Regions from separate parts of the Homo sapiens genome. Here regions 2 and 3 are each linked to region 1. The links come from fine-mapping of genetic effects on gene expression. A gene starts in region 1. Each other region holds a variant in brackets. All regions are shown on one strand. Distances are from middle to middle.

Region 1 (7,005 bases):
TGACATTCTGCATTTGGGAAATACACTGACTTGTAATGTACACTTTTCTAGTTTGGGTTAAATCTATACTTACTGATAAAGAAATGCTTCTCTAAGTATGATGATTTCTCAAGCAATAGCTTCTATGATCTATAACTTGTGAAAACCAATCTCAACTCTTTGCAAGTGGGCAAAACTTAAATATAACAAAAAAAAATACATCATTTGCCAAAAAGTCAAGTCTCAAACTTAAATCATAGAAGTATAGCAATATCAGAAAGTCTTTCCTCTGGGTGCCCTAATGTCTGCTTCTCCCAAATATAAATTAAATTAAATGGATTCTCAGCTACTAACATTTAATTAACCTGGGCAGATAATACAAAATGGCAAATAAACCAAACTTATTTATACTGGAGGAATGTTTTTGAACTTAAGACAGCATCTTGCATTGACTTTATAATACGGAGACTGTCAAGAATGAACAGCTCACTTAGCTCACCCTTTCTGCCTTCCCATTCAACTCACCCTTGCACGCCATTTGGTGCTAGGAATGGATCCCACCATGGCTAGGCTGTGCTAGTCTTCTCTCTAAAAGCATAGTCTGTGGTTTACAAATTCCCAGTTGAGAAGGAATTAGATATTTGACTTTAATGCTGCTAGGTTGCAGACCGTGCACACAGAGGGTAAATGATATCAAAGCCTTGTTCCTCCTGGTTCAACTATATCAATAAGAAATGCAGTCAAGGCACCTGCAAATAGCAAAAATCAACCTTGCTTAGCATTTGCTTGTAAGGCGATTGGGGTGCTGCTTAAAGCAATGGGGTTAGCATCCCCTGTCAGCAACACTTACTCTTCTTTCCTAAGAAGCTCCTCCTCAGATTCCGTCAGGCGTTGCCTCAGTACAGCTATCATTTCCACGGCCACGTCCACCTGTCTGTTTAAGGCCCGCTCTCGTCTCTGAACTTCCTGCTTTTTCTGAGTCAGCTGCACAAAAGCTGCCCGAACTTCCAACAGTTCCGCAGTTTTCTGGGCCAACTCTTTGGTGAGTTTATCAATTCTCTTCTCAATGGTCCTATCCACAGCCTCAACCATTCGATTGAATTTTTCTCTGACATGTGCCTCGAAAGAAGCTTTGGTGTCTGAGGTGGGCAGTCCAGGACCCGACCGTGTCCCATCCAGCGAGTCTGCATGGAGGTCCATGGCAGTGTAGGTCTGCACATAGGACACAGGCCTCTCTGCCACCACCTCAAATGGCTTCCTGTCCTTGGAATGTTCATGTGAAATGCTGTACAAGTTAACATAGCTCGGTTTCTGCTTTACCACGTTGCCACTGCTCTGCAATTTTCCCGGTTTCAGGAGTTCTGAGGAAGTGACTAGGTCTGTGTCTTTGAGGGATGGAAAGAGACTGCATTTTGTCAAGAGGGTTCTTTCTTCGTAGCTGTGACTGAACTCCAGATGGGCCCTCAAGGATGACAAGCTTCTAAATCTGGTATGGTCTCCACACCTCGGGCAGCGTAATGGCAGGCACACAGCAACATTCTCAAAGGACTCCTGCCAGGGATATCTGCTTTCCTCAAAAGCCTTCTGTTGCATTACTCTAAAAGTCCTGGGAGGGGGGAAATAGGTAGTTTACAAGTCGGCTGAAAAACACACTACTAAAATGATTGCTGCTCATCTCCATGACAGCAGAGGCTTTTTGGTTTCAAGTGACTTTTGCACATAATATTTTATGTTGCACTTAAAACCTACAGCCCATGGGCCAAATCCATCCACATCAATTTCTGCATTATTTACTGCTGCCGTATCAATTTCTGTATTATTTATTGTAAACCACAATGGCAGTGGTGAGTAACTGAGACAGAGACTCTATGCTCCTAAAAGCTAAAATATTTACTACCTTTACAGAAAAAGTTTGCCAACTCCTACCTAGAATCAAAAAGGTGGGTAACATTCCCTCTCCACAGAAGAGAACACTGAAGCAAGGAAGTAAAGCCATTAATCCAAGGTCAGATGGAAAGTGGTAGATCCAGAAGTGGAATTCAAGTTTCCTCCCCTCCTGAATTTGGCACACTAAATGCAAAACCGTGCCCCATTTTAAGGATACAATCCGAGATGCGTGAACACAAGAACATATGAAAACTCACATGAATTGTCAAAATGGGTCCTAAGACAGCAAGCTCAGGACCTATCCTCAAGTACAGGAAAGATTACTCAAGCTATGCACAGTGGCATTAAGCCTGCAATCAGCTGAAAATTTTTCACCCTGAAATTTTTGCCTTTTTTTCCTTCAGGTATTGCTGTGATGACATAAACCAAAGTGCTAATCGTAACAATAACAGACCCCATACGTGAGTTTCACTGAAACCTGGGGACCCAATGTGTCAAATACCATTTGGCATAAGTGGGGCCATGGCCAAGATTTTTATTATAATAGAGTGTTCTGGACGGATTTGTCTTGTCTCAGATGCTATTTTATATGACAACCTCTAGGGATGGTCAGTGTGTGAACCAGGTAGGTATCAGCATACTCTCTTAATAACAGGAAGTTCTGGTTTCCTTGTAGGAATGCATTATCTTCACCCTAGCAACAGATGACTGTTGGCAACCCAATTCTGCAAGCAGTGCATATCTTCTATTCCTCCATGAAAGGTTTCTACTTAAATGTAACAAGCATTGGACCCGAAATGAGGGAGCCCAGCTGGGGTCTTTGGGTGAAAAGTGTCCTCAACCTCTTCAAAAGCAGAGGTGCAAATGGTCCCCAGGCAGCGAGGCAGGCAAGGCTTCTAGGTGAAGCCCCCGGCCCCCAGAGAGGGGAACCTCTTCCTGTGATGGGTACACCGGGATGTTTAACCACTGGTTTTCTGGGAACGAGATGCAAACCCTGGCTCAGCATAGGGCCAAAGACGCTGACAAGAGGTAAGGAAAGGGGAAGTCAGGATTCTAAGGGGGCAATGGGAAAAGGGTGGCATTTTGGATGGGGAAATGGGTAATCACACACTCCAGAGCACGCAGGCTTTTATGGGCCCAGAGGAAACCCAGTCCACTGGGCTGATGAAGAGCCCTAAGTGACTCTGCCAGAGAAGGGCAGGCTGGCAATGACCCTGCCCCGGGGTCCCAGCTCTCCCCGCCCCCTCTCCGCTGCGTGCCAGCCCACGGGTGCCAGAGTGGATTCGTGTGCACATGAGTTCCTGCTGGTGGGGGCCGGGAAGCCGGCTCTCCCAACTCCCCGCCATGCTGCGGGCTCGGGGACCCCCTCCCCAGCCCCGGCCACCCCGGCAGGTCCCCTCCGCCGAGCCGCGGGCGCAGATGGCCGGCGGCCGCCTCTTACCCGACTTGTTGCTGCTGCTGCTGCAGCCGCCGCCTCCGGTGCTGATGCTGCGGGAGCGAAGCGGTTTTCAGCAGAGCCGTAAATCAGACTGAGCCGGGCCGGCTCCCACTCCCCGCCGCACCTCCGCGCCGGGACCGGCGGCGTCCAGGGCGGAGCGAGGCGCGGCTAGCCAGCGGGGGCGGCGCTCGCGGGCACCGTGGGGCACCGCGCCGTGGGTGCGGGGGTTCCGGAACGCCGCGGCCCAGGGCTGCCACCTCCGCGGGGAACACCCTTGCTCTGCCCAGCTGGCGGGAGCATCATCTGCCCCCCCGCCACCCAGCCGGGAGCCCGATCCGACTCAGGATTACACTGACATCACTGCGAGAGATGCTGGGATCATTCCCCGGGGGAGGGAAGGAAAGACGCGTGTCAGCCTCGCAGTCGCGGCGCTTTCTGCAGGCCCTGGCAAGCTTTTTTGCACTAGTTTGGGGGGAGCGGGAGAGTGTGGATGAGGATGCAGCATAGCTGGGCATCTTCTTTGAAAATCTACCCGTTGGAAGGTCCGGGTATTTAATTAGGACCTCTTCATCCCAAGCAGCAGGGCGAGAATGTCCCAAAATAACTAACCCAGAGAGTACACTCCAGCCTTCCTAGCCAAGTGTCCTGAGGCTACGTTAACAGGCAGAACTAAATCTAGTAAAGTGCAGGGATTAATGAACAAACAGTTAAAGCAACAAGATCCCTCACCTACACCCCCATTTCTGAGGCGGACGCCCCTTTCCCTGGAGAAAAAATTTGTCCTCCTAAAGAGGGGATGTCCTGAAGAGAAGACGGCAAATCATTCCTTCTGAAGGACTCTGATGTCTCAGCTTGCTGGGCTTTTGCTTTTTTTTTTTTTTTTTTTTTTTTTTAACCTGTTTTGGTTTACCCCTACTGTAACTCCTGAAATGTGAAACCTAGATAAAAGTTACTGCTGGGTTTTCTTGTTCAAAGAAGAGAAGAGATTCTGTTCATCTGTAGACAGTTAATGCATCCTCTTGACTTCTCAGGGTGTCTTTTCTCAAGGCTTGCTGTTACTCATTTCAACACCCGATTTTATTTTAACGGTAAAGAGCTCAACAGTTATCTTAGTTGAAATTTTGTTTTGTTTTTGACAAATGAAAACAAATGAATTGCTTTGTTTTTTCACAAATGAATTATCACATCAAATGCAATGAAGATCCCAAGCTCTGGCATCAGACTTGATTCAAATCCTGGTTCTAGGGCCTGGGTCAAGTAACTAGACTTTTCTGTTCCTTCAATTCCTCATCTATGAAATGAAGATAATCAAGACCTACCTCTTAATATAGCGGTGGATCGAATGTGCTATGATGATGGAGGTAAAAACCCTGCCTGACAGGGACACACACTGATAAAGTCAGCTGTTATCGTTGTTGCTACTTCATTTATAATTATTATTAATTCCATAAAAAAGGGGCCTACACACATTTAAAAAGCAGGAAGGAGAAGAGGAATTAATATGTACTAACTTCTACGTAAATGGAGATAGGCTATTGTGCTGGGGTGTGTTTGCTTTGAAAATATTATATCTCATTGAAGTTACTTTTTGACTCGCTCTCAAGACTATTCCAAGAATCAATTTATTTAGTACAAAATCTTAAAGTCTGAAAGATACACTCATTGGAGTGCCAAGTTATCTCCGTCATCTTGTGAGGTGCCTGCAGGTTAACCTCTTACACCCACTGCCTTCATGGCAAAACATAACAAAAGCATGCTCTGGTCCTCCCTTCCCCCCCGCCCCTTTTTTTTTTTTTTTTTTTTTTTTGAGACGGAGTCTCACTCTGTCTCCCAGGCTGTAGTGGCGCGATATCAGCTCACTGCAACCTCTGCCTCTTGGGTTCAAGCGATTCTCCTGCCTCAGCCTCCCTAGTAGCTGGGATTACAGGTCCCTGCCACCACCCGGCCAATTTTTGTATTTTCAGTAGAGACGGGGTTTTGCCGTGTTGGCCAGGCTGGTCTTGAACTCCTGACCTCAGGTGATCTACCGGCCTCGGCCTCCCAAAGTGCTGGGATCACAGGCGTGAGCTACCGCGCCCAGCCAGCTCCTCCCATTTCTTAGACAGCTGCTACTTCTTTTTTGGTCCTAAGTTCCTCCCCTGTTAAATGAGAGGATGGAGATTTTCAAAGTCCTTTTCTCACCCTAAAAATATAAAATATTATCAAATAATTATGGAGAGGTTATTCTGTGCAGGGCCTAAAGCTGAGTATTGTGGGAAATTCAACTTGGTCAACAGGCATTTAGGACCTTAAGTGGTTCTCAAAGTGTCACTTGTGTATACCACCAATTACCTCATTTAATCTTTGAACACCTGTGAGGTAGGGAGGACCTTGTACACTCAGTTCTAGCCACCTTGGCATCCCTTTACTTAAGAGCCCTGCTTTTTCCCGTCTCTAGGGCCTCTTTATCTGGTAATGCCTACTCATCCCTCAGAGCTCATCCCAAGTATGCCCTCTCTGAGGAGGTCTTCCCTGACACTCCTGGACAAGGTTAGTGCGTACTAGGAAAATTTATTATGACAGGATTTGTCACAATAATTCTATGTGCTGGGTTATGGATGTAGTTGTCTGTTTAATATTTATGTCCACTGTTAAGTTGTAAGCTATGTGAGTCAGGGTCCTTGTCTGTCTTACTCTCCAGTATATTCCCAGGACTTAGCACAGTGCTGATCAAAGTGCTCAAAAAATATTTGTTAAAAGAATGAATGCTGAAGAAATAAATCCCCTTTCTACATAGGAGGAAACAGGCCCAAAGAAGTTAAGTAACTTTCTCAAGATCACAAACCTAGAACACATTACAGCCAGGATGGCAAACCCTGGGCTTTTAACCACTGTACTCATTGGCTTTCCAGTTTTTGATGAAGAAAATAAAGTTCTAGGAAGTAAAGTGACTTGCCTAAAGTCATATAGGTAATAAAGAATAAAATCAGGGTTAGAGTTCATGTCTTCAAACACTGATGTTTTTCTATGCCACATTATGCTGTTTTACTCTGCCCTCCAGGCACTTACAACTAGTGGAATGAGAACAAGGCATATATATATGATAGATATATGAGATATATATCATATATATGATAGATATATGAGATATATATCATATATATGATAGATATGAGATATATATCATATATATGATATATATATGAGATATATGATATATATATCATATACATGATATATATGATATATATATCATATACGTGATATATATGATATATATATGATATATATATCATATATATATCATGTATATGATATATGATATATATATGATATATATGATATATATGATATATATGTGATATATCATATATATGATATATATATGATATATATGATATATATGATATATATGATATATATGTGATATATCATATAGATGATATATAATATATGTGATATATATGATATATATGATATATATGTGATATATATGATATATATGATATATATCACATATGATATATATCATATGTGATATATATGATATATATCACATGATATATATCACATATGTGATATATATGATATATATCACATGATATATATCACATATGTGATATATATGATATATATATCATGTGATGTATATGATGTATATGGTATATGTGATGTATATGATGTATATGGTATATGTGATGTATATGATGTATATGGTATAT
Region 2 (7,005 bases), 67 kb after region 1:
AAAGTAAGTATGCAGACCCCGCACCTGCTTACTTCCACCTCGGTGCAGGTCTCCCCCTTTAAAAGCACCCACATTCTCTCCAGAAGCAAAGTAATACCCTTAAGGCAGGAATCCTGTACTTCTTCCCATAAGTTATCTTTGCAATACAAAGTCACTTTCTTTGTATTAGCTCTTGCTTTTGTTAATTGGACTCTGCAAGTGGTGAACATTTTGCATTACAGATGCAATCGTGGACAGGAATTTGTTCATTCGTTCAACAGATTATTATTGCACATCCAGGCTCCAGACATTATGCTAAGCATTCAGTATTCTGGTGCCAGGTGCTGGAATAATAAAAATAAAAATAGTAATTATTGTTACTATTATGGATACTGTGTTAGCTTCCTTTTCCACTTGCCCCTCCAAATCCAATCTCCACACACCCCATTTTGTGCCCCTAGGAGGCTGACCTATATGGATACCACGAGTGGGCTTCCTTACCCTTTAGCTCCAGTTGGATGTGGTCAGTGAAGAGAACCAGTGGGAGCTAAAAGGAGAGAGGAGGAAGAGGTTGGAGTGTTTATTCCCCCAGCTCTTGTATTAGTCCATTTTCATGCTGCCGATAAAGACATGTCTGCGACTGCCTAATTTATAAAGAAAAAGAGGTTTAACGGATTCACAGTTCCACGTGGCTGGGGAGGCCTCACAATCATGGCAGAAGGCTAAAGGCACTTCTTACATGGCAGCAGCAAGAGAGAATGAGAACCAAGCAAAAGGGGTTTCCCCTAATAAAACCATTAGATCTCATGAGACTTACAAGAACAGTATGGGAGAAACTACCACGTGATTCAATTATCTCCTACTGGGTCCCTCCCACTGGGAGCTACCTGTGGGAATTATGGGAGCTACAGCTCAAGAGGAGATCTGGATGGGGATACAACCACACCATATCAGCTCCCCACTGCAGGGTTGCTGTAAACTGGCTTTGTCTGGCTTCCAGTCAGGCAGCTCGCTTCACACTATTCTCTGTCTCCAGGTTCTCACAACTGCCCCTTTTCTTCCGTCTGTGGGCCTCAGGTAGTCATTGTGGCCAGCTGTACTGAGCTTGAGTTTTCACTATATTCTATCCATGTCTTTTTTATAAAAAGTCCCTTTTCAAAACACTCTTAAATTAATTCATTGCAATGTGCCATCTGTTTCTTTCTGGGAACTGAAGAACTTCTTATGAAGTGTTTCTTTTTTGGCAGATACTGCTAGGTATACCATTTCATCAAATCTTTACAATCCTGTCTATAGTTTGCCTAGTAAGGCTGAAAAATAGAGAGGCTGAGTGAATCATAACCAAGGTGTTGACTAGGTTCTTTTATTTTCCTAAACTGGACACATATAGAGATAGGCTGGACCTTATACAAAACAATACAAGCAGGATTTATCATGGTGTACCCTTCCATCTTGCTCTCCATCCCAGCTTTTCTCTCTGTGTCTCTTGCTTGCAATATCCTGTTGCTACCCCTTGGAGTTCAAGGATCCCTGTTGTGGTGTCTCTGGTCTGTCATCCCAGCAGTGCTCCTTGCTGTGGTTATCTTCCCTGTGCTACAAGCTCTCAGAACACTGTCCTCCCTTCTCTTCAGTGATGCCAAGTTACCCAGATAATAATACTGAGCTCTGCAGCACTTGCTGATAATTATTCATTGTTACCTCTCCAAGGGTAGCAAGAACTCTAATTGACCAGTTACCTTAATTTAAACAAAGGACTTAACCTGTACTGGTAGTTTTAGAGACTGCTGTGGTGACTAAAGAGACATTTTGGTGGTTATATCGTCATTGACTGCAGACCCACTTGGTATAAGGTGGTCTTGTGCAAGACACAAGAAAAATAATTCATATTTAGTTCTACGAAAAATTCTATGGCAATTCTCCATCAAAGTATTCTGATTTGATTCCCAATATTGTTTTCCCTAATGTATCTTTTAAAATTCTTAGTTATATATTCCACACAAGGAGAAGAATTCTCCAGGAGATATGTGGAATTAGTAGAAGTAAAAAAAAAAATGACTTTCGGTGGTGGAACGAGACTCCTTGATACCGTTCATCTGTTTAGGAAAAGTCCAGCCAAGTCCATTTTATCGGTATCAAAGACAACATATAACTTAGCCTCCTAAACACTTTTAAATTATCTTTCCACATAATAGCACATTTTTTTAAAAGAGTAAGCTGTGTCCAAAAGTGTGTTCAATATATTTCTCCAGACAACAAACATTCTAGAATTTTAACTTATTTGTTTCTGGTATAACTGGAGGCAAGAACAAAAATTCAAATGATTCTAGTTGCATAACAAAGTCTACATACCAGGAACTGTAAGAGTCATTCCCAAAAGCAGCTTTAAACAATGCTTGAGTGAGTTAGCACTTTCTTACTAGAAAAGCCTTGTTTATATTGAAGGATACTGATGGCAAATAATTCTGCCAAAAACATTCTATAGCACAGGTGAAAGTCTTGCCTGAAGGATAGCACTCAAGAGACCCCTGGCATTTGGTTCAGCATGGTACATTTAATCATAATATAAAATTTGCAAGAAAGTGTGGACCCTTGCAATATTCTCTTCCTATGACAGTGGAGAGAATTCTATTACTCTTATCAATTTTTCTTGACTTACGCAGTAAGAGGCAGATTCTAAAGATTATAATAACTTTGATAGTTTTAAAACATGGCTGCAAATTCTGTGACATTCTTCCCATTGAGAGGTGTGGTCTCCATTCCTCCCTCTTGAACCTTGTCAAGCTTGTGAAATCTTAGGCCAGTAGAGTATGGCAGAAGGAATGCTAAGTGATTTCCAGAGCTGGGGCATAAAGGGCCATACAGCTTCTGCCCCATTTGCTGGAAAATTATTCTTGGAGACTTC[G/A]GCCTGAGTCTGTCATGCTGGAAAGAACTGGGGTAGGCACTCCTGTTGCCAGTCTCGACTGAGTCCAGGCTTCCAGTCATCCATCCATCCCTAATGATAGGGACAAGAGGCACGGAAATTCTGGGCAGAAGAGGATGGGTCCCCAGCGAGGGCCCTACCCTCAAGCCTGGAACCACAGCCCAAGGTAAGAACATACATCCCTGTTTTCCCACTCAAATGTTGACATTTCCAAAACCACCCATGGCTCACCCCACCCCTCATTGTGTGTCCATAAAAATCCTAGGCTCTGCCAGCAGAGAGAGAAGAGGAAAAACAGTTGGACATCAGAGACTATGTTTGAACGTTGGAGAGAAGCATTTGACTTCAGAGGGACAGCTTGACGGGGTAGCTTCAGAGAGGAGTCCAACCTAGACAACTGGACTCCAGGGGAAGATCACCTTCCTGCTCCATCACCTATTCAGCTCCCCTTCCCACTGAGAGCCACTTTCACCAGCAATAAAATCCCCCACCTTTACCATCTTCAACTCACTTATGTGAGCTAATTCCTCCTGAATGCTAGACAAGAACTTGGGTGCCAAGAGGGTGCATGCAAAAGGTGTCACACTGACCCTACACTGAGCTGCTAACACATAAGCCGTCTGCAGACAGCAATGGTAAAGGATTGCTGACTGTAACACTTCTTTTTGGGCTTAAGGGGGAGTGCCCCCCACTAGATGCTGCTGCAGGCCCCGCATGGAGTTGTGCTCCTGCTGGTGCCCAGAAGCAGTTGCCCCGGCTCCTGCACCCACATGCTCCTTCCCGCGAGGGGTTGAGCACAGTAGGTTCCAGTGAGTGAAGTTTGCCCCTGCTGTTGCTGAAGCAGCTAGCTAGCTCCAGTGCCGGCACTCTAGTTCCTGCCCGCGAAGCAGTCAGGGTAAATTTCCTGTTTCACTGCCAAGAATACAGACATGTGAGTGAAACTCACGTGGACAATCCTAACCAGCCCATTTTCCAGCTGAATACCTTCAAGCAAACAGAAAATTCCTCTAAGGAAACGCTTTGGAAATCCTGACCCACACAATCTTGAGGTGCTATTTCAACCACAAAAGTTTTAGGAAATTTGCTTTCTAGCAATAATCAGAACAATTACTTCCTAAGTTATATAGTCATTGATCAGTACACCACTATTAGGCAGGGTAGTTCTATCTGACAGACAAGAAATGACTTACAAAGTCACGGAGTAATGTAGGGTGTTTTAGTCCATTTTGTGCTGCTATAGCAGAATATCTGAGACTGAGTAATTCATAAAGAACAGAAACTTACTATCTCATATTTCTGGATACTGGGAAGTCCAAGAGGAAGATACCAGCAATTGGTCTGGTGAGGACTTTCTTGCTACATCTTCATATGGCAGAAGACAAAAGGCAAGAGAGAGTGAACCCACTCGTGAAGCCTTTTTAATAACAGTATTAATCCATTCATGAGGATGCAGCCCTCATAACGTAAACACTTCCTGGTAACCATTACCTCCTAACACTGCTGCATTGGAGATTAAGTTTCCAATATATAAATTTTGGGAACATATTCCAACCATAGCTCAGGGGTAGAGCCTGATTCCAACTATCATTGAGAACTGTGTGTTTTTTCTTCACTATGCCATCTTTTCTTGTTGGTCATAAAATTTTCAAACAAGCATCTTAAAATAACTAAGCCCATTGGCTTTCAAACTGTGTTCTCTGGAGCTTGAGAGTTCAAAAAAAGGTCACTGAAGACTCATGCTAGGAGAGGAAGCAGTGCAGGATAGTCAACAAAGAGTAGGAGGGTTTCTGATCTTGTTTGAAACCAAATGTGTTCTCCTTCTAATAGTTGTATAAAGATGCTGATATTCCACGTAAGATATCTTGTTAATATAATGCCCCCTTACTAAAACAAAAACAAACAGATAAAAATATTTTTGAAGTAGTATTCCAGTCCAAGAGACTCATTTTAAAATTTAAAAGCCATGACCTGATAAACAAAGCATCTTGTCCAGTGTTATATTGTTGACCAATTCGGTCTTATGATTAATATTCCAGTGATTTTGCCATGTTTATACAATCTGCCTTTGTCATGCATATTAGCAAGACTCAGGACTGATAGGAGTCATTTTATCCAACCAATATTTATTGAACACCATGCCAGTCTCCACACCAGGTGCAGTATTGAGCATGATGGTCATGGTCATCGATGTGATTGGGGTTATAACTTGATAGGTAATAATTTTCAACCAATAATCCATTTGTTTCCTTTCTGTAAGTAGCTTCAGCTTCTGTCCCCATCTTATTCCTAACAGGAACTATCAACAGAGAAAACATCAAAAGTCATATGATTTAGTCTCTTGCAGAGCACAGGAGTTAAGTTGTGATAGAGGAATAGGAAGGAACTAGGGAACAATAACAATCCAGAAGCAGGAACAATTAGGTACCAAATAAGTGGAGTAGTACTGTTTCTATAAGAGCACCAGTAACATAGACTTTTGAAATTGCTACAAAAAAGCCAAAATGATTTTTAAAGAAGTTTACTCACTTCTTCATGTTATTTTATTTTGTTTAAGAATATTGCTTTAATTATTCCATGAATTTTTTTCAAGCACTACAGTTTTCAAGAAGCATTTTATATAACATTCTATTTAAAGATCAAACTAAACACAAGTAGGAATGTGAGAAAGGTTTTGAAAAATAAGCCACTTGAGAGAGTATATTGACGTGGGTAATTTCTGAGGTTCTTTAGGTATAGAGATAATTGATCAAAATAGGTCATTAATTCAGTTACAAAAATTCAGTCCCTTCAGACAAATCACTTGTAGAACTTGTGAACCAAAGGACTCTAATGATTGAATGAACACAGTGGAGTCTTTATTTTTAAAGGTGCAAGAGGGATATTTTAAACTTTCTATTTTCACTTTAATTTAAATATATAAAGGCTCTGCTTCAACTCTTGAGAAATTCTAGCTGTAGGAACAACCTTTCCAAATCATTTTCTTCTTTAAAAAATTCTAGTTTTGGCAAAAGCATCTTCAGTTTATCCACAAACCATTTACTTTTCATAATCCATAATTTAAACCAGAAAGTGCTTTTCTTTTTTAATAGAGAAAGCTAATTTATCTGACATTGTCATCATGGAATAGTGTGTTGCAAACAAGCTAGAATTCTAGAAAGTGCGATTTTTTTTTTTTTTTTTTTTTTTTTTTTTTTTTTTTTTTTTTTTTTTGTGATGGAGTCTTGCTCTGTCTCCCAGGCTGGAGTGCAGTGGCGCGATCTCAGGTCACTGCAAGCTCCGCCTCTGGGGTTCACCCATTCTCCTGCCTCAGCCTTCCGAGTAGCTGGGACTACAGGCACCTGTCACCACGCCCGGCTAATTTTTTGTATTTTTAGTAGAGACGGGGTTTCACCATGTTAGCCAGGATGGTCTCGGTCTCCGGACCACATGATCCGCCCACATCGGCCTCCCAAAGGGCTGGGATTACAGGCGTGAGCCACTGCGCCCAGCCAATCATTTTTATTATAGATGAATTATTTGTTTTTACATCTATAAAATACAAGCAAAAATATGTCACACAAATGTATACTGATGATTATTTAATCTTTGGTGATTCACATAGCATAGCTGCATCACCTTGTAAACATTTATTCTCATTGTCTGCAATAATAGATACAAATGATGACAAATATTGGGCTGGATCTCTAATAATGCACTGACAAAACTTTGAGGAAGCTTTTAAAATCAATCTTTTAAATGAGATTTTACTTTCGTTTGTCCAAAACACATCTTAAAAACAACAACACACACACACATAGTTACATATACAGTCTCTTACTTTTGACGGTTTGGCTTACAATTTTTTGACTTTACAGTGGGTTTGTTAGTACACAACCTCACCCTAAGTACTTATTTATCTCTCCAAATCAGAGCTGAATTCTTTGTGACTATGGCCTGAAGCTTGACTTCTTGAAGCTCTGTATGACAAGCTACTAACACAGGAGACCAACTGAAAGACAGCACTCAATAAATGTTTATCAAGAAAACATATAATAGACAGTGTTTCATAGCAGTTTACTCATATTGATTAGTTTTGCTTTGTTTTTCACAACAACCTTATGAATGAG
Region 3 (7,005 bases), 62 kb before region 1:
ATGAGACTAATTTCAAGAAGTCCATTTTGTGCGGGAGAAAGTGCGGACAGGACAAAGGAAAAACATGCAGATTGCACATGTTTATTTAGCCACCACTCTGTCTCAAGCACTGGGCCAGGTTCTAAGAAGTATCAAAATTAAAAGTGAGATGATATTTTTGAGGGATTTTAATATTTAGATTGTGTCAGTTAGGATATGTTTGGCTCTCAGTAACAGTACACCAAATTATTAGTGGCATAAACAATAAAGACATTAAATTAAGTAATAGAAGATATAAGAAGCTGGAGGATGGTCATTTCAGAGCTGATTTACCAGCTCCACATTGTCAAGGTCACTGGGTTGACATCTTCAAGAGTCCCTTGGGTTTCCCATTTTGTTCACAAGATAATTTTGCAGATCCAGACATTAAATCCTTTATAACCTCATGCAAAGTCAGGGCAAAGGAAGAGCCACAGCTATTAGAGGGCTTGCACATATGCTTTCCCATCTTTGTTATAAAGAATATGTCTTTCTCAGAAGATATCAGTGTATTTCCCCTATGCTTCATTGGCTAAACCGAGCTACACATCCCATCCCTAGCTGCAAGAGAATCTGGGAAAGGGAGGCATTGTTAGGTAGTGAGTCAACATTTTTTTTTTTTTTTGCTAGAGTTGAAATAATCATAAAATTCTAAGTAAAGATTATTTAATCAATTGCTCAATCACGTGAGTGCTTCTGGAATAAACACAATGAAGGAATACACATGGCATGAGGAAAATGTAAAGAGAGAGAGGAAGACAGAGACCGAGAAGAGAAAGAATAGACCCATTATTAGTTGAAAGATGAGAAGAATTTAAATTGGTAAAGATGAAGGAGATTTCAAGTAAGGGAGAAAAACTAAGAAAGTGGGAAATGGAATTAAAATATCTATACTGACCAGAAACCATAAGTGTAGTATCAACAACAGCAAGGTGATAGTCTTACCGATATTCATACCATTAGAATAATTTTATTTTCCATGCTAAATGACCTTAAATGAGCACTATTTTCTATTTGAAATGTGTTTGTGTGTGTATTTCTCAAGAAGCACTCTAGCTAATTAGACAAAATGCTTGCAAGTTAGTGAGGCTGTAATGCAGAAGGAATAGAGACCAGGCAAATTCTTTCTGCTTGATGCCTACCTTAATAAAGCTTTCTAAGTACTGTGAGAAGCATACTGAGGAAGGATACTGGTGCTAGATACCATTCATCAGCTATTGCAAGCTTCAAAGGCACCGAAATGCTGAGTTATGAGGATTTTGCCAGAATCTATTCAAGTGGAAAGCACCCGGAGTAAGGCACAGTGTGCCTCTGAATCTTCTGCTTACATAAGAGAATAGCAAAGGCCTTAGATAAGGGAGTGACTTGATCTAATGTTATATCTCTTCCTTAATGCCAGTTATTCTGTATCTGCCCTTCATGTTTTTTTCCTTTATCTATCTTGTTAACACTCAAAATTACTTTATGTATGTGTTTGTTTACCTGGTTTTTGTAGTCTTTCCCCTTTCAATAAAAACTCTATGTGGCTGGGCATGGTAGCTCATTCCTGTAATCCCAGCATTTTGGGAGGCCAACGCGGGTGTATCACTTGAGGCCAGGAGTTTGAGACCAGCCTGGGCAATGTGGCGAAACCTCATCTCTACTAAAAATACAAAAATTAGCCTGGCATGGTTGCTGCGCCTGTAATCCCAGCTACCAGGGAGGCTGAGGCACGAGAATCGCTTGAGCCTGGGAGGCGGAGGTTGCAGTGAGCTGAGATAGAGCCATTGCACTCCAGCCTGGGTGATGGAGTGAGACTCTGTCTCAAAAAAAAAAAAACAAAAACAAAAACAAGAAAATACTGTATGAAAACAGATATAATATTCCTGTTCTCCATTGTATCTTCAGTCCTTGTCACAGGATCTGTGGACTCTCAATATTTATGAAATGAATGCATGAGTGAATAAATGCTCCTATCTGTTAACTAATTTCCCATACACAGTTACTTGAAATCTACAAAGCTGTCCAGCACCAGCTGTTATTCCAACAGGCCCATGCTATGCATCACGACAGAAGAATGATGTTGGATGTAGAGCGTGTTCAGCAAATAAAACTCATCAAACCAAATCTCACCAGGCGACCAATAAAAGAAAGATTAATACCTACATAATCAAGCCTGTGGTTTGTCTTACTTTAAAGTATGTGGATAGATTATCAGCTGTCACCCCCTAGTGGTAGAGAATATAATTATCAGGGCTGCTTGTTTCTGGTCAAAGGAAGGAAAAGAAGCCAGGAGATTTACAGAAAAGTGCATTTGCTACCAATCTCACAACCTTTAAATTGCATATACTATTCACACACACACGTACGTATATGTGTGAATTTAGAAGGAAAAAGCTTTATGAGTTACACCTTACTCTGATGATCTGGCTGTTTGTTAACTGCCTGGAAAACATAACATGAGATGTAAATAACTTGCTAAAAACTCGCTTTAAACTTTGTCTGCTTCCGTCATTACAATTCCTTATGAAATCCCTTCCTGAGAAAGAATTAAAATAGCTATTTATTCTCAAAGCCTCTTAGAGAAGAATATTGATTTCCTATTTAAAATTTGACATTTACTCTATGACGTGCGTAGAATTTCCAGAAAGCAAGGAAACCATGACGAAGTTACCCTAAAGCTTGATATAGATCAACTTTTTTAGATAAATTTCAGAAAACTACATTTTTTAAAGACAAAAAAAGTTAAATTCAGCCAAACTGCTACTTACAAATCATTAGTCGCAAAACAGCCAGTTGCTTAACTGAATTCAACCACATACATTTCCCTGCCTCCACCCAATCCTATTTTCCAAAACACCCACAGACACATATATTTGTATCTATGGGTATAGATTGTGGAAGACTTTAAAATAAACCATCCAAAATGATCTCTGATTCTGAAATCACTGGAAACAGAGAATACATTTCTCATACATACATTTAAATGTGGTATTTGACTCTCCCTCTTAGCTAGAGAGAGTTTATGTGGAATTTATAAGAAAGTTTATAGTCAGAAGTCCATCTGCTTATAGGTCTTGTTTGAAATGCTTGGTGTGTGTGTGTGCTAGCCACATTTTTTGGAGCACTCGTTGTTTACGGTGCATTGAGCTAGGCATTTAACCCTCCTAACCAACTTATGATATAAACAGTACTATCATAACCATCTTACAGATGAGCCTGCTCAGGCATATTAAATTCCTGGCACAATGTTACCAGCTACAGGGCTAGATCTTACTAGATCCCAATTGGTTGTCCTTCCATCATTAGCTTTTTCAGTTAATTGGCTCTGCTCAACAAGAAGCAGGAACTTAGTAAGTGCAATGATGTTGGTCATGAAGGGTGCTGGCAAGATTCAAAAGGCTTCAGGAAATATTCATTTCTTAGTGAATAAAAATTTCTTGGTGAAAATCTTCCTGCCTTAATGAAATAATGAACCTAATTAACAACTAAGGTCTTGTAAAGCATCAAAATTATCCTTTTTAGCATTATATTTTTATGTGTTATTACAAATCTGGATATGTTCTATAATTTTATTGTGTAACTAAATCTCAATTGTTATTTATTTTTTTGCCAGTGGCTTTTTTTTCTCCTAAATATAAAGAATGATTCCCTGTACCCTCTTTTAACTTCCCCAAAATAATCACTTAGTTTAATTAAGGGTTCTAGTTACTTTAGTACCAGTTAACCAACTTTTTACCCTATTTAATTTATATGGCTGTTGGAACTTTCCTATTTGTCTAGAAGAAAATTCCCATGGCCTGGAAAATTGCTTGCTTGCCTGGTGGGATTGCCAGTTACACGCTAATTATAGTATCTTTTATAATACATTAGATGGTGGTGGCTCCTTTATATATATATAAGTGAAACTCACAAAGA[C/T]GTTCAGACCAGTGCATCAGTAAGGCTGAATAAGAAAGAAAAGTAACAGTCTTAAAGTATTACGGTATTACAAAAAAAACCAAATACCCATGAAGTAAAAATTTTGAAGAGTCTCAGGTGTGAAATCCTACATTCCAAGCATTAAGTTAAAAGGACAAAATACCACAGAACTGTCAGAATGGGTAGCCTTCTTTTGCACCAATGCTGAAATATCATTTTTTATACAACTAGTCTTTTGCTAGATATTTCAGATAATGACATCAAATTTGAGTAGGCTGTTTATCCACTTTGCCTATGGGGAAGAGACTGGTTTTTAAAAGAAATGAGTTTGTTTTCTTGTTATGGAAGAATTTAGGCATTGCCAGAAGTCTGGATGGAAATGTAGCTGTAAATATCCATGGTAAAAATAATATGCATGGTAGCTAAAAGAATGGATGAGAATTGGGATTGATTTTTCATTTCTGATGATCAAGCCATTATAGATCTCCCTTGATTGGGAACAAGCCATTTTTCCATAGTCTTTGTCAGATGATATTAAAAGTCTATGGTATCTTGCTATTATTGGCCGAGTGTTATCCTTTAATCTCCTGAAAATGGGCTACTAACATTCTGCAGCATTTAGGGTGGAGAGCCTTGCACTATTCCAGATCTCTAACCTTTTTCATCACTTAAACCAGAGCTAGTGTTGAATACAAAAGGACTCAGATAAATATATCTCAGGCATGTGTGAGGCAAAAAATGAAACCTTCTTCTTGGGAGTATTATTCAGAAGGTTAAGTTTATCAGAAAAAAATTTACCTCCAAACGCTAGACCTGGGTGCTGGTCTTGCCATTTCCTTCGTCAGTCCTTTATCCTCCCTGGACCTCAATTATTTCACCCACCAATGCAGAGACACATGCTCATCTGTGAGTGAAGAAGATCATGTCTAAATAGTCCTTCCCAAATCTCAGCAAGTCCTATAAACTAAGATCTTTCTTAGTCTGTCATTAGCCAGTCATTCTTTAAGTTGGTTTCTCTATTTAGTTTCCAAAATACCCCTTTCCACCCTCTGAAATGGTCTTATTTATTTGTCAGATTTTATTGTCTATCTCTGCTTCTGGAATTCAAGCTCCATGCATTCAGGAACCCATCTTGTTCATTGCTGTATCCAGAGGGTCTGAAACAGTGTCTGATGCATGGGAGGATTCAAGAAGTAATGTTGAAGACATGAATAAATAAGTTTCCTCAATAAATAATACTGAATACTAAAAGAAGAAATGTATGATTGATGAGTTTTCACTCTTCTGAATGAGGTTATTCTAATGTCCCTTGTTAGCAGATGACTTTGTGAGAAGAGATTAAAACAGCTTAAGGAGGCTGCCCAGAGCTTGCACTCTGCAATGACAACACTAATTTTGTTCTGATTTCCAGTATACTTCCTTGCTTAGGGGAGAAATGTCCTATTTCACTGTCCTTCTGAGGCAGGCTTTCCTACTTCAAGTGGAGCCGGTTCCGTGCAGTCTTCCAAGTAGGTAAAGTCATTGACTGCTTTCAGTGCTTTCCCTGCTAGTCTCAGTCCCACCGACATCTAATTATATTAATATGCCAGAGAGAAAATGCAAGAAGGCTCTTCATTCTAGGATGAATGAATTGTTCAGGCCCTTCCTAAGAGGAAGTATCAATTTAGAGCAGGGACAACACACAGTCCTTGAGCACCTGAGGTTAAGTATACCCACAAACGTTTGTAAGCATTGTGATAAAGTTGCACATTAGCCCCACCAAAACCTCTCCACCCATCAGTTGATTTGTTTTTCATTTGATTGTTGTTTCTCCAATTTACAGGGAGAAAAAAAAAATAAGGTTTGCTGTGTTGAAGCACCACTGAGCAATCTTAGACCCGAAGCATATCTTACTGATTATCTAATTCAATGTTTCCCAAACTTGTCTGAACAAAAAAATCACCCAAGGTGCTGGTTAAAATATCAATTCTCAGGCCTCACCCTGCTGATTCGGATTCCGACAGGTTTGGGTGAGGCCAAGTGCATTCAGATTTTTTTAACACGTGCCCCAGGTGATCCTTATGTTCAAGCAGGTTTAGGAAACACTAACACACACATTTTCATTTACTAGCAGAAGAAACTAAGTCTGAGAAAGCCCTGAAAGTACATCTGGGTCACACAGCTCACTAAGAATCTTCAGTTCCTGGACCTGGATTCTTTCCCTTGTACCAGCCTGCCTCCACTAAATCTCCATCCCACTAAAAAACTATAAAAATACACACAAGGAAACTAAGCACCCCCAAAACGCCTTAACTTCCTCTGTATTTCCAAATGAAAATGTTAGCTGACTTATTTCAATATTTCCTTGTTGTGAAAACATTTTTTTTAACTCCAATCATAATGTGTGTTTGGCCTGGATTGGGGTCCAGGATTTAAAGGCAAGCTCTACCGATGCCATCTCAGGATGCTCTCAACCTGACTTGGAGCTCTGTGGAGTTGACCTTCTGCTTCTTAAATCCAAATCTGGATCGTCATCAAGTATCACTTGGTTTATCTGGTGAGTAAAGAATCCAGCGAGGTAGGTGTTCAGAGCCACTTTTTCATCATCAGGAACTAAAAGCAATTACTAATCTGTTTTCACTAATGCAGTCCATCTGTGCATGAGCAATTTGTGTGGTTTTCCTAAGAAGGACATCATATTCTCTGTTTTTTTAAATGCTTAATACTTGCAATCAGAGGGACAGAAATATCCAGCCAGCCCCAATTCTTATAAAACAGAGCTGAAAGCAGGTGATTCAGCTGACTTTAGATGACTCAGCCCGCCTCGATGGCCAAAGTTGGTGAGTCATTTGTCTACTGTCTGAGAGAATTCATTTCAGGAACCCAAATTTCAGGGGCCTCCAAAACTCATTAAACTGTTTAGTAACTCATTACTTCTATTGGAGTTATTGTAGCCTTTCCTTTACCTCAGTTTTTATTCCTGTTCAAACAAATCCAAATCAAACTTCATATCAAGCAGTAGGTTCTACAAGGAACAGTCCATGATCTAGGATGAATTTGAAGTTCCTTTTGGTTTGATTTCCCTGATAATCTGAGTTTTTAGGGAAAACC

Which allele goes with the higher level. Alleles are on the strand shown, and positions count from the first base shown. SD is a standard deviation of normalised expression in the study named. Not every link is listed here.
As copies of C replace T in region 3, the expression in sun-exposed skin of the gene that starts at base 3,397 in region 1 goes up (large effect, 0.88 SD a copy in GTEx).

What was found.
Region 2: its variant is fine-mapped to the expression of ZNF365 in lung (TOPMed, PIP 0.99).
Region 3: its variant is fine-mapped to the expression of ZNF365 in sun-exposed skin (GTEx, PIP above 0.99). The same link has a PIP of 0.9 or more in unexposed skin.

Annotation. Positions count from the first base shown.
Region 1 is chr10:62,370,761-62,377,765 of GRCh38, reverse strand. ZNF365 (zinc finger protein 365) reads right to left here and starts at 3,397. Exons shown (of 5, transcript NM_014951.3): 1 at 3,308-3,397; 2 at 830-1,585. The coding sequence starts at 1,572. LOC283045 (a long non-coding RNA gene) reads left to right here and starts at 2,639. Exons shown (of 4, transcript NR_104162.1): 1 at 2,639-2,895.
Region 2 is chr10:62,303,626-62,310,630 of GRCh38, reverse strand. LINC02621 (long intergenic non-protein coding RNA 2621) reads right to left here. Exons shown (of 4, transcript NR_186389.1): 4 at 6,564-7,005. Among named protein-coding and RNA genes, the nearest start is that of RTKN2, 38 kb to the right of the region's middle. The variant G/A (reference allele first, on the strand shown) is at 2,882.
Region 3 is chr10:62,433,025-62,440,029 of GRCh38, reverse strand. It overlaps a transcript of ZNF365 not described here. Among named protein-coding and RNA genes, the nearest start is that of ZNF365, 62 kb to the right of the region's middle. The variant C/T (reference allele first, on the strand shown) is at 3,916.